2 linked regions of the Homo sapiens genome follow. The protein of the gene in region 2 interacts with the protein of the main gene of each other region in a pairwise test. Each region holds a gene or a part of one and is shown on either strand. Other genes may lie near its edges.

The links.
Region 1: the proteins of SLC5A8 (region 2) and PDZRN3 interact in a two-hybrid assay, tested with the Homo sapiens proteins (one study listed by BioGRID).

What each region holds. Positions count from the first base shown.
Region 1 is NC_000003.12:73,621,942-73,629,941, forward strand, and holds the start of PDZRN3 (E3 ubiquitin-protein ligase PDZRN3), read right to left. Parts: upstream 3,001-8,000; 5' UTR 2,885-3,000; coding exon 2,162-2,884; intron 2,025-2,161; exon of another isoform or gene 1,627-2,024; intron 1-1,626. UniProt on the Homo sapiens protein: E3 ubiquitin-protein ligase. Plays an important role in regulating the surface level of MUSK on myotubes. Mediates the ubiquitination of MUSK, promoting its endocytosis and lysosomal degradation. Might contribute to terminal myogenic differentiation.
Region 2 is NC_000012.12:101,154,698-101,158,238, forward strand, and holds the end of SLC5A8 (sodium-coupled monocarboxylate transporter 1), read right to left. Parts: intron 2,705-3,541; coding exon 2,582-2,704; 3' UTR 796-2,581; downstream 1-795. UniProt on the Homo sapiens protein: Acts as an electrogenic sodium (Na(+)) and chloride (Cl-)-dependent sodium-coupled solute transporter, including transport of monocarboxylates (short-chain fatty acids including L-lactate, D-lactate, pyruvate, acetate, propionate, valerate and butyrate), mocarboxylate drugs (nicotinate, benzoate, salicylate and 5-aminosalicylate) and ketone bodies (beta-D-hydroxybutyrate, acetoacetate and alpha-ketoisocaproate), with a Na(+):substrate stoichiometry of between 4:1 and 2:1.

The sequences.
Region 1 (8,000 bases), on a different chromosome or scaffold from region 2:
AAAACAGAAAGTTAAGAAGAAATAATAAACTAGCTCAACAATAAATGATGCATAAACTCTGGGGCAGTGAATGGCTTATTTATAAATAAGCGTCACTTAAAACGACGAAGGAAGTCCAGATGACAGCATAAACAGCAGAAACTCGGGAACTCCTTCACCCTAAATCTGGCGCCTGATTGAAGACCAAGCTTTGCCCTCTGTTTTGGTGATTCGAAGGCTCACACCAGTCTTTTGTGTGCCTGTGAGGTCCTGGGCAAGCTGTGGAGCTGTAAATATTTGCCCTTCGCCCAGAGCTGGCCAGCTGCTGAGACTGCAGCTGACAGACAGGCCAGGGGCCAGGAAGGGGGGCCAGGTCGGAAAACTTGCAGGCCTGGTGTGCACGTAAGGAAAGGGGGCTGGGAGAGGGCAGAGAGAGGCAAAGCAGACACAGGCCCTTGGGGGAGCCTCGGGCAAATATTTTCCCCTTTCTGCCACACCATCTGGAGCAGGCAACCAGAGCGGTGGCAGCAGGCCCAGGCCCCTCCCCAGGAAGGCAGAAGTACCCAGCTGTTGAAAATGTGGCTTCTGCAATCAGGGAAACCAGTGGTTCTCAACCTGGGCGACTTTGCCCCTCCAGAGGACACTTGACAATATTTGGATTGTCACGACTTGGGAGGGAGGCCAAGAATGCTGCTAAACATCCTACAATGCACAGCACAGTACCTCCCCTCCCAACTAAGAGTTATGGGGCCCAAAATGCCAATATGCCCCAAAACTGAGAACTCTGAGGTAGAATCTGAGTCCGGCTCTGCTCCCTGAGTCACTACTTAATTTTGGACAAGTTATATAACTTCTCTGAGTCTGTTCCCTCATCTCAAAGGACAACATAGGTAATGCATGTAAAGTACTTCCTATTGTTGGTGGCACTTAATAAACACTCAATAAATGGTCCTTGTGGTTGCACTGAGGAGCAACATGATAGTTTATAGAACGTGGGCTGGAAAGATGGGCACGCAAAGGTTCAACATGCAGCTTTGCACCCAAAAGCTGTGACCCAGGCATGAAACTGCCCCTTAATGAGCCTCAGTTTTTTCATCTACTAAGTGGGAAGGGTCACACCAACCTCACTTGATTAAAAAGGAAATGACTGGGAAGAATGCAGCACCCAGCCTGGAGCAAAGTAAACCCTCGCTCAAGGGGACCGCTCAGGTGGAGATGTTAAAAATAATTCTAGGTAACACTTGTTGAGCATTTATTTACTCTCTGCCAGGCACAGTACGAGGCCCTTCTACTAAACTCTCTCCCTGAAGCCTGACAAAAACCTTTCGCACTGAGGGAAACTGAGGGATCTGGGAATTAAGCCAGAAGCTCACCCAGCTGGTCAGCAAAAAGCCCAGATTTGAAAACAGTTTTAACTCCAGAGGACTCACACTTAATTATTACTTTATACTTGTTGGGGGCAGAGTGCTCCTTTAATTCTTTCTGAAATCCCTGGATGAATACCTCAGGGGTGCCTGGCTGTGTTTTTACTCTGTATACCACGTCTCTAGGGACCATAGTTTCCAACTTTAGAGAGGTTAAGCAGCTTGCTCAAGGTCAGCCAGCTAGTTGGCTGCAAAGCCCACGCTTGCATCCAGCTTTTACCCCAGAGGCCTCTCTTCTGATATCCTTCTTAACTTAATCTACACTGGCTGTGGGTTCCCTTTATTTTTTTTTCTGGAATCCTAGAGGATGCACGGATACAATTCACCCAATGTGTCCATCTCTCCTCTCCTAAGTGTCAGTCTATAGGTTTCTGACCTCTAGAGGGTAAGCAACTTGCCCGAGATCCCCTAGCTGGTCTGAGCAGCAAAGCCTTTGAACGCAGTTTTGACTCTGGAGCTGCATTCTTCATTCTTATCCTACACTTGCTTGTGAATTCTTTTTCGTCCTTCCAGAATCCCTGAAGCTGTACAGCTATACTTTACCGGTTACGTCTAGACTATAAAGGACCACAGTGTTCCACCTCAGGCAGGTTCAGCGACCTGCAAGTAGTGATACAGCTGGTAAGCAGTGGAAGAAGAGGGAGGAAGCAAGGATGTTCCCGGGAAGCTCGGGGCATCCCTGTACCCAAAGGGATGGGGCGGGGCCCTGGGTCCCCAGGGATCCTGGCTGGAGGTCGGGGCGGGCAGCAGGCGCCTACCTTGCCGCCGGGCGGCGCGGCCACGCAGCGGCTGAGCGAGTCGAGGCGCGCGCTGTATTCGGTGAATTTCTTCTGGTAGCGCAGCGCGGTCATCTGCAGCTCAAGCTGCGCCGCGGCCAGCTGGGCCACCAGCGACTTCTCGCGCTTCCCAGCGCGCAGCGCCTCCTTCTTGAGCGCCTTGTGCAGCGCGCCCAGGCGGGCCTGGAGCGCGCCGTTGTGCGCCCGCAGCGCTCGCGCGCAGCAGTGGCCGCCCGCGCGCTGCTCGCCGTGCGTCAAGGGTAGCCCGCAGCCCTCCTGGCAGCGGCCCACTGGCCGCGCGTCGCAGGCGTCGCGCATGTGCGCCTCCACGTCGCGCCGCAGCAGCACCTGGCCGCAACCCGCGTGGCGACAGCGCGCGGGCGCGAAGTCGCAGCGCTCGAGGTGCTCCGGCAGCTGCTGCAGCTTGACCACCCGGCCGCAGCCGCGCGTCGCGTACGCGCACTTGATGTCCAGCTTGAGGATAAGGCGCTTGAGCGGCAGGACGTGGTTGAGCTCTTTGGCCGACAGGCGACCGCGGCAGCGCGCCGGGCAGCTGCCCTCCTGCACCACCCAGGGCAGCACGCAGCCGGCGCAGAAGACGTGGCCGCACGGCGTGGTCAGCGGGTCCTCCAGGACCTTGTGGCACAGCGCGCACTTCAGGTCCGGGTCCACGTCGCCGTCGAAGCGGTCCAGCTCGAAGCCCATGGTGGCGGCCAGGCCCCGGGGTCGCCGCCGGGCGGCCGGGCGCCCCCTCCCTCCCCACGAGGCGGCCCAGACAGGCCGGCTACGCCGCCCGCGCGCTCGCTGGCTCTCCCCGGACTGAGCCTAATTGATCCAGACTTCCTCGGAAAATGCCCGAGGAACAGGACTCCTCCGGCCGTATTTGCGCGAGCGCGAGCGCACATACATCGTGCCTTGGATGCCTCCCGCCAGCCCCCCGAAAAAGGGAGGAGGCTGGAAGGCAGAAGCGCGTGGGAGGACACTGAGGCTCGCCAGAAGGGACGGGCCAGCCCAGGACGCCAGCCTGAATCTTCTCGGGAAACTCCTTTCTGTTCTCTTACAGTCTACGCTATAGGAGACAAAACGCCAGCCGAGAAAAGCTCGCTGAGTTTGGAGCTGAGGCTACTGCTTTCTCCCAAGGGTTCTCTTCGAGCCCCTTCCCGAACGGATCAAAACTTTTTTACTCCCTTCTCCCTCCCCCTTCCTCTAGTGGCTGATTGCAGAGGACTAAAAATATCTTGGGGCCCGCTATCTCAGCACTTACGGTCTTTATTTATTTATTTCATTCCAGGGAAAGTTACAGAGCCTGCGGGAAGCTCCGGCTGCAACTTCAGTTCTGACCAGAGGTTCTGTGAACCTTCAGGATTTAGCAGGTTTCCAGGACCGGTGGGTGAATCTACCCGGGGAAGTTTTGGTGGACAAGAGCTGCTCGCCAGCTGTCGGAGTGGGAGAGGCCAGCGTGCTGGCTCCATCCACTTCACCTAACACCTCTGAAGTGTCTGCCCTGCAGTGTGGCAAGCGTGGTGCTGAGCGCTTCTAAATCCGTCGCTTTAAAGATCATTAGTACAATGTTGTGAGAGGGTTAGCTCCATTTGAAAATTATTTTCCCGTGATTACAAAAGAAGCGATGCTGACTGCAGAAGTTAGAACTGGGAGAAGACTCATCACCCCCATGATCATGTCAACAACTGCCCTCCTTCAGTTTTGGTTTGTTTTGTGTGTACACTCTGTCATCTTTCCATTGAGGAAACTCAGGCTAGAAGAAGGATAAAAACAAAACAGAAAACAAAACAAAACAAAAGTGCCCTGTAGGGTCCTGTAGGTCAGTGTTTCTCACATTTTAATGTGGTTGCGGTTCTGATACAGTGGGTCTGGGGCGGGTTCTGAGAATCTCCATACTGAAAGCACTTCCAAGTGATGCCAATGCTGCTAGTCCATGCTGGTCCTTGGATTCCCACTTGATTGGAAAACCCTGGCGATCCATAGATCTGGACATTCATTCCCTGCAGTACAGCAAACCTGGCTGGGTAGGATTCAGCAACAGTCCTGAGCAATGGAGGAATATTTTTGGAATTCCAAACTGGGTGTAAAGTTCATAGCATCATCCATTGATTTTATTTTATTTTATTTTTACCTCCCAAGGCTATAGACATTCCTAAGAAACACGCAGTCAGCTTTTGGTGAGAGTGGAATCAAGCTATGGAATTCTCATTTGGAATCTGCTTCCAGTTTCTGAACAGTGAAGCGGGAGAGTTCTGAACAGTAAAGCAGGAGCTCTGTATTCAGCGAGACTCTGGGGCCTGGAAAGTGGGATTACAGCATCCATTTTGTCTAATTGCTTTCCTTCTTTCTTTTATGTGGCTGCTAAAGCCCCATGACCTTCACTATTTAACTGCTTCATCAGAGTGAAAGAATTGCCTTGATGTTCATAAGGATTACTTGTTTCACACTGACCTTTAAAAAGTTGTCACTCACTAGATTTTTCAGTGCATGGTTGAGGTCACTGGACAGTGTTCTTTAATCAGTTTTGGTGGCATTTGTTGCCTATTTGAGGTGGAGACTTTCTTTTAATTGCTTTAATCAATTAATGCATTGCTTTGATAGGATTCTGCATGGGGTGGAATATTATTGGCCTTTGTTCAGATAAGCTTGTGCCAGGGAATCCTCCATCAGTATATTCATTAAACTGCTCATGGGCTCTCAGATAATGGGTAGGAAACAAATTCTTTCACCAAAGGTGTGTGGGCTTGTCAGTTTCACAGAATGAGCTAGTGTCAACAGGGTGATAATCTTCAAACCAAACTGGTTTTGAGAAACAGAGAAGTTCTGTCCTACACCATAAATGTAAATTAGTGCTTACTTGGGGTGTACACTTTTTTGGAGATGTTCTACCACCCCTCGGGTGGTCTCCCAGATGGCAGATTGAGAGGTTGTTGCTGAAATGCTACAGCTGAGGCCACAGAGAAGCCATAGCCTACTGTGGATTGGCCTCTTTAGGCAAAAGGAAAGTCTGTGCCACTCCTCAATGGTTAATTTTAGTATCAAAATTCTTGGAGGTTAGAAAAAAAATCCTACAATGTCAGAGCTGGCAAGACTATTATTTCAGTCACCAAACTTAACAGGAGAAACGAGAGCCAAAAATATTAGGAAAAAGGAGTTGAGGGCAGAGTTACTCAACCTTGGTACTACTGACATTTTCATTCAAATAATTATTTGTTGTGGTGTGTGTGGGGGTGGGGGGTTGGTTATCGTCTGCATTGCAGGATATTTAGGAGCATCTCTGGCCACTATCCAATAGACATAGTAACAACCCCTTGTTGTGACAACCAGGTTGAGAACCACAGTTTTAAGGAAGCTTTCTGCTCATTACTGAAGTCAGGCAATGCTGTCAGCCCACATTTTCTGCTGGCTGTGGAACCACCTGGTGAATGCTGCACAGTGAGAGAGGGATGTTATTATAAATCGAAAACTCAAGGCACCATACCAATAAACATGAATAAAAACTGTAGGAAGATGAATGTTTGGTGTGGCAGGCCTCCTGAGAAAAGTAGCTGATTTTTCTGACATGGATTAGATACTTACTCAACCGTCCCAGAAACATCTGAGTGTTTATATATGGATGAATTCCTTGTGGACAGCTGGATTGGTCACTTTGCAAATTATTTTTGCGACTTCCACTACCTCTTGCTCTTACCCCTTCCTTTTATCATCTGATTCTGCACTTTCTAACCAAAATGTGGCCCCAAGCCTAATAAAAATACTATTTCTATATTCACCACGATCCCATTCTGATTTTAAACTCTGTTTTTAGTGTTCTTTCCATCAGCATGTTTAATCAGAAGTTGATAATAATATCTACCACTTTTTTGGGAACTGTTACTAGGTATCAGGCACTGTGCTCAGCACTTGACCTTCATTGTCTCATTAATCCTCACTGCACATAGAGAGGTAGATATGTTGTCCACCCTGTTTTACAGATGGAGAGACTGAGGTTTATAGAGGTTACATAAGATATCTAAGTAGGCGTAGGTACCTTATAAGGTTACATAAGGTATGCCTCCAGTCAGGGATGTCAACAGGAGAATTTCAGAACCCTCACTCTTAATCACCATAAGCATTATGCGTCTCCTCCATAAGCTCCAGCTCAGGAGGCACTCCCTTACAAATGATATGGATAAGAACTCCACCCCTCCATGTTTGCTGGTTATCAATCCTCAGCTGCTCGTAGGGTCTGGATAATTTGTGGCTTCAGTACTAGAAAAAACAAACAAAAAGAAAGTCAAGGGTTTTTACATTTGTTTTTTAAATTTTCTTCCCCAGGCGTACATATTTGTATTCTACTAGCTAAAATAGCACTATACAATTAGATAAGGATCTGCTTTTACCAAATGAAAGTACCACCAGAGCGTAATAAGGTACAGCAGTCATCCACAAAAACAAGTGTGAAACATTTCGGTCAGACTGCTTGCCTGTTAACATAGCCAATGTTAGCCATCCTGGAGCCTGACACATTCGTTTGGCCATGGGTTGAAAGGTAGGGAGAAGAGAAGGTAGTTCTCTATTCTGGAGACTTTTGAAGACTTTGGTAAGTCAGGATGAGTTATCACAGTAGGGACACTAGGCAGAAGAACAAGAATTGCGAAAATACTTCTTACAAATTTGAGCAAATTCTGGTCTGCAAAAGTCTGGCTCTCCTTTCCCAACTCTCCAGATGGGATTAGTTTCCACAGCCCCAAGCACATACCCTTGTATAACAATGATCACACTTGAAATGTCTTAATTTATCTAATAATTATTTAGTAGCTATTATATGCAAAGAAGAGGCTGTTCTTGCACTGGGGCTACAAAGGCTACCAAAAATAATAAGCAGTGTCCCTCCCCTCTTAAGCCTTCATTTCACGATAAGGAACAGCAGATATCAATAAATGAATAATAAATGAGATGATTATGGAATATGATAAGTTCCCTAATACAGTGCTGCTCAAAGTGTGGTCTGGGGACCAGAAACATGGGCATAACCTGGAAGCATGTTGAAAGTGCAGAATCTCAGGCCGCACCTTGGACCTACTGAATCAGAATCTGCCTTTTAGCAAGATCACCAAGTGATTTGTGTGCACTTAAAGTTTGAGAATCACTGCTGTCAACACCATAAAAGCAGCTTACATGCTGGAGAAAAATCAAAGGGGCCCATTTGAAATAGGGCTGTCTGGGGAGGGGAAGTGTGAGTTGTCGCTTGAAGGGTGAGACTGAGCCAGCAATAGCTGGGAGAAGAACAATCCAGGCAGAACAAGAGAAAGTGCTGAGGTTCGAAGCAAGCACATGGTCTATTTGAATTAGACAGAGTGTGCCTAGAACTTGGAGCAGAGTAAGCCGAGCGAAGAAGAATCAAACAAGGGTAAAAAGTAGGCGAGAACCAAATGGACACGGGCCTGCAGGACCTGTGGAGGAAAGAGATTGAATTGATTCTAGTGCTGATTGGCACTGAAGTATTTTGGGCAGCAGAGGAGCACAGCTTGATCAATGTCTAGTGTCCATGCCACATATTACACTCTATTATAGAGTAGGGCAATCGTGTTCACGTTCTGTCCCCCATGTTTAACACTTAGTAGAAACGTAATAAATATTGAACAAATAACTGTTCCCTCTTCCTGCTCCATGTAAGTTCCTGCTGCTCAGCTCTTAAGCGTGGGTTGGTACTACCAGCATGAGGTATATGTATCACAGTATGAGTTAAATAGGCCTCTGTGTCCTAGTTGGAGTACCTATCAACATTTAGAACATTGTTCCCATAACAAAATCAATTCAGAATTATGAACAGCCA
Region 2 (3,541 bases):
TATTCACAATAGCAAAGACTTGGAACCAACCCAAATGTCCAACAATGATAGACTGGATTAAGAAAATGTGGCACTTATACACCATGGAATACTATGCAGCCATAAAAAATGATGAGTTCATGTCCTTTGTAGGGACATGGATGAAATTGGAAATCATCATTCTCAGTAAACTATGGCAAGAACAAAAAACCAAACACCGCATATTCTCACTCATAGGTGGGAATTGAACAATGAGATCACATGGACACAGGAAGGGGAATATCCACTCTGGGGACTGTGGTAGGGTTGGGGGAGGGGGTAGGGATAGCATTGGGAGATATACCTAATGCTAGATGACGAGTTAGTGGGTGCAGCGCACCAGCATGTCACATGTATACATATGTAACTAACCTGCACAATGTGCGCATGTACCCTAAAACTTAAAGTATAATAAAAAAATAAAAAAAAAGAAAAGCAGGAAAAAAAAATAACATATATCCACATAAGAAATACATGAATATATAGTTAATTTATTTGTATTATTTATTTATTTATTTATTTATTGAGTTAGGGCTTCATCACCCAGGGTGGAGTACAGTAGCGCAATCACAGCTCAGTGCAGCCTCGACCTCCTGGCTCTAGCAATCTTCCCACCTCAGCCTCCTAAGTAGCTGAGACTACAGACACACACCACCGTGCCTGGCTAATTCTTGTGTTTTTTTGTAGAGATGGAGTTTTGAACATTGCCCAGGTTTATGCAGTTAATTTAAATGTTATATAAATCTCCCTCTCTCTCTCTCTTTTTTTTTTTTTTTTTTTTTTTTCCCAGAGACAAGATTTCACTCTGTTACCCAGGCTGGAGTGCAGTGGTGTAATCATAGCTCAATGCAGCCTTGAAATCCTGGGCTTAAGCTATCCTCCCACCTCAGCTTCCCTAATAACTGGGACTACAAGTATGTGGCAACATGCCTAGCTAAGTTTTTTTTATTTTTATTTTTTATTTTTGTAGAGATGAGGTCTAACTATGTTTCCAGGCTGGACTTAAACTCTGGACCTCAAGCGATCTTCCTGCCTCAGCCTCCCAAATGTTCAGATTACAAGCATGAGCCATCATGCCCAGGCTTTTTTTTTTTTTTAAATTTCTTAACATTGTCAGTTAGCAACCTCTAAATGTACAGGGCATGATTACCTAAATAACACGTATCAGAAAATAAGCATAAAATTATTTAATCATAAAAACATTTGTATGTATCTAAATATTTCTCTTATGTTTCTAAAAAAAATTGAGTTTAAAAAAGAACTTTTAAACAGTATCTAATGTGGGAACTGTACAAAAAATAAGTTATTGATGAACTCCTATAACCAAACTCTTAGCTAGGAACATAGCAAAATAAACAGCTAAGCAACTTTGAGACTGCTACTTAAAAATTTTAAAACATGGAACAAAGCATTTTTTGAGTCCAGACGTTTTAAAAAAAGTAGTGTTTGCTTATATAATTTAGCCCTTTAACTGGATAAATATACCGAAATTTCAAAATTTCTAGGCATATGTATCTTTAATTGATTGCAAATTAGTTGACATTCAAAAGTTCAACTTAATAGCATTAAGTGTAGTCATCTAACTCCATGGAGCTTAACCATTTTGAAGAATATAATATTCTTGGATCATCAAGTCCATAAATACCTACATCAAGTATATGTTAGTACCAAGCTAATGGGAGTTCATAATTTATAGTCTGGGACTTGATAAGCCAGGATTTGGGGTGGCATGATTCACATGAGTGTCTTGAGACATATCCAAGCCCAGGGCAATAAACAGAAAATTATGAAGACAAGCTCAGTTAGAGTGCACAATAAAACCCAAGTTGATAGGTCAGAAACTGGGCATGCAGATAAAAATTACAGTCTAAGAAAGGCAGTATCAGCAGCCAAAGCCCAGAAACTCTAGAAAACAAGCCAAAAGGCACAAGAATTAATGAACAGCACCAAGAAGACTTTGATCATTGGGCCCACGGTCTTTCCCAGCCAGAATACTTATTGATTACCACCTTCCTGATTCAGAATCAGTTTGCAGGTTAGTATATGCCCTGGACTGATAGGGGGATAAAAAGCAAAGATCTAGACAACACAGACCTGTTACCTCATTGCTCCCTAAGAATGGTGTATGTGGTAGGAGGGAAAAAAGCTCTTTTCAAGATGAATTGTGATGTTGGCAAACTTCCAAACTTATATGCTAGCACCAAGGCATGGAAAATATTTTCAATAATACCCAAATTTAAGAATATACCTTTGACAATCAAATACATGTGCATATGTGTGTATTAGCCTTTCAGCATCTATGTAGTTACAATTTTCACAATTATAGCTTCATCGAAATAAAGGAAAGAGAGGGAAATGTCAATGCCAGAATTCTAAACTCCAGAGTAACATCAATTAATGATGTAGTAAATGAAGATAGTCCAGACTTTGTTTTAACAAAAACTTATCCCCCAAACACTCATGATACAACACACACACACACACAAAGAAAACCTGATCCAATTATCTTAGAAAACATATAAAATTGAAACATCATTTAAGGATATCTAGTATCAGAGCAGCTTCACAAACGAGTCCCATTGCTCTTGCCACTCTGATCTGAGTTCAATTCAATGTGGTTGAAAGCAGGATTATCAGTTCCACCATCTTCCACTGGATGTGATTTATAGCTCAAAACATGCTTCTTCTAAAAGAAAATGTTAACATGGTGATTAGGGGGAGAAAAAGAAGCTCTTCATTCATGTAATTCTAAATAATTGTTTCTACTATTTTTATTTCTCTGCATCAGCTTTCTAATCTACTGAGGGAGAGAAATATATAACAGGTATACTTCCTCAGAGGATACCGAGATATTCAACAGATACAGGTTATCAGAAGATAGATACAAAATAGCCCATCAGACAATAGATATACAACAGATTTATAATATCAGAGGATAGACAGATATATAGAGAGATATAACAGATATAAGTTATCAGAGGATAGACAGATATAGAGAGATATACAACAGATACAGGTTATCAGAGGATAGACAGATATAGAGAGAGATACAATAGATATAGATTATCAGAGGATAGACAGATATAGAGAGATATACAACAGGTATAGCTCATCAGAGAATAGAGGGATATACAACAGATATAGGTTATCAGAGGATAGAGAGAGATAGATATACAACAGGTGTAGCTCATCAGAGAATAGAGGGATATACAACAGATATAGGTTATCAGAGGATAGAGAGATATACAGCAGATAAAGATCATCAAAGGAAAGAGGATATGCAACAGATATAGCTCATCAGAGGATACACAGATAAGCAATAGGTATAGCGTATCAGAGGATATGGAGCTATAAAACAGATATAGATCATCATAGGATAGAGAGCTATCCAACATATATAGATCATCAGATTATATAGGGTCTATACCTTCCTTGTCCATCACTTTTCAAGAAAGAGGTTGAGAACTAATTAGTGTTCTATCCAGGTAATAAAGCCCAGTTTCCTAACTCAAGGTAAATGAAA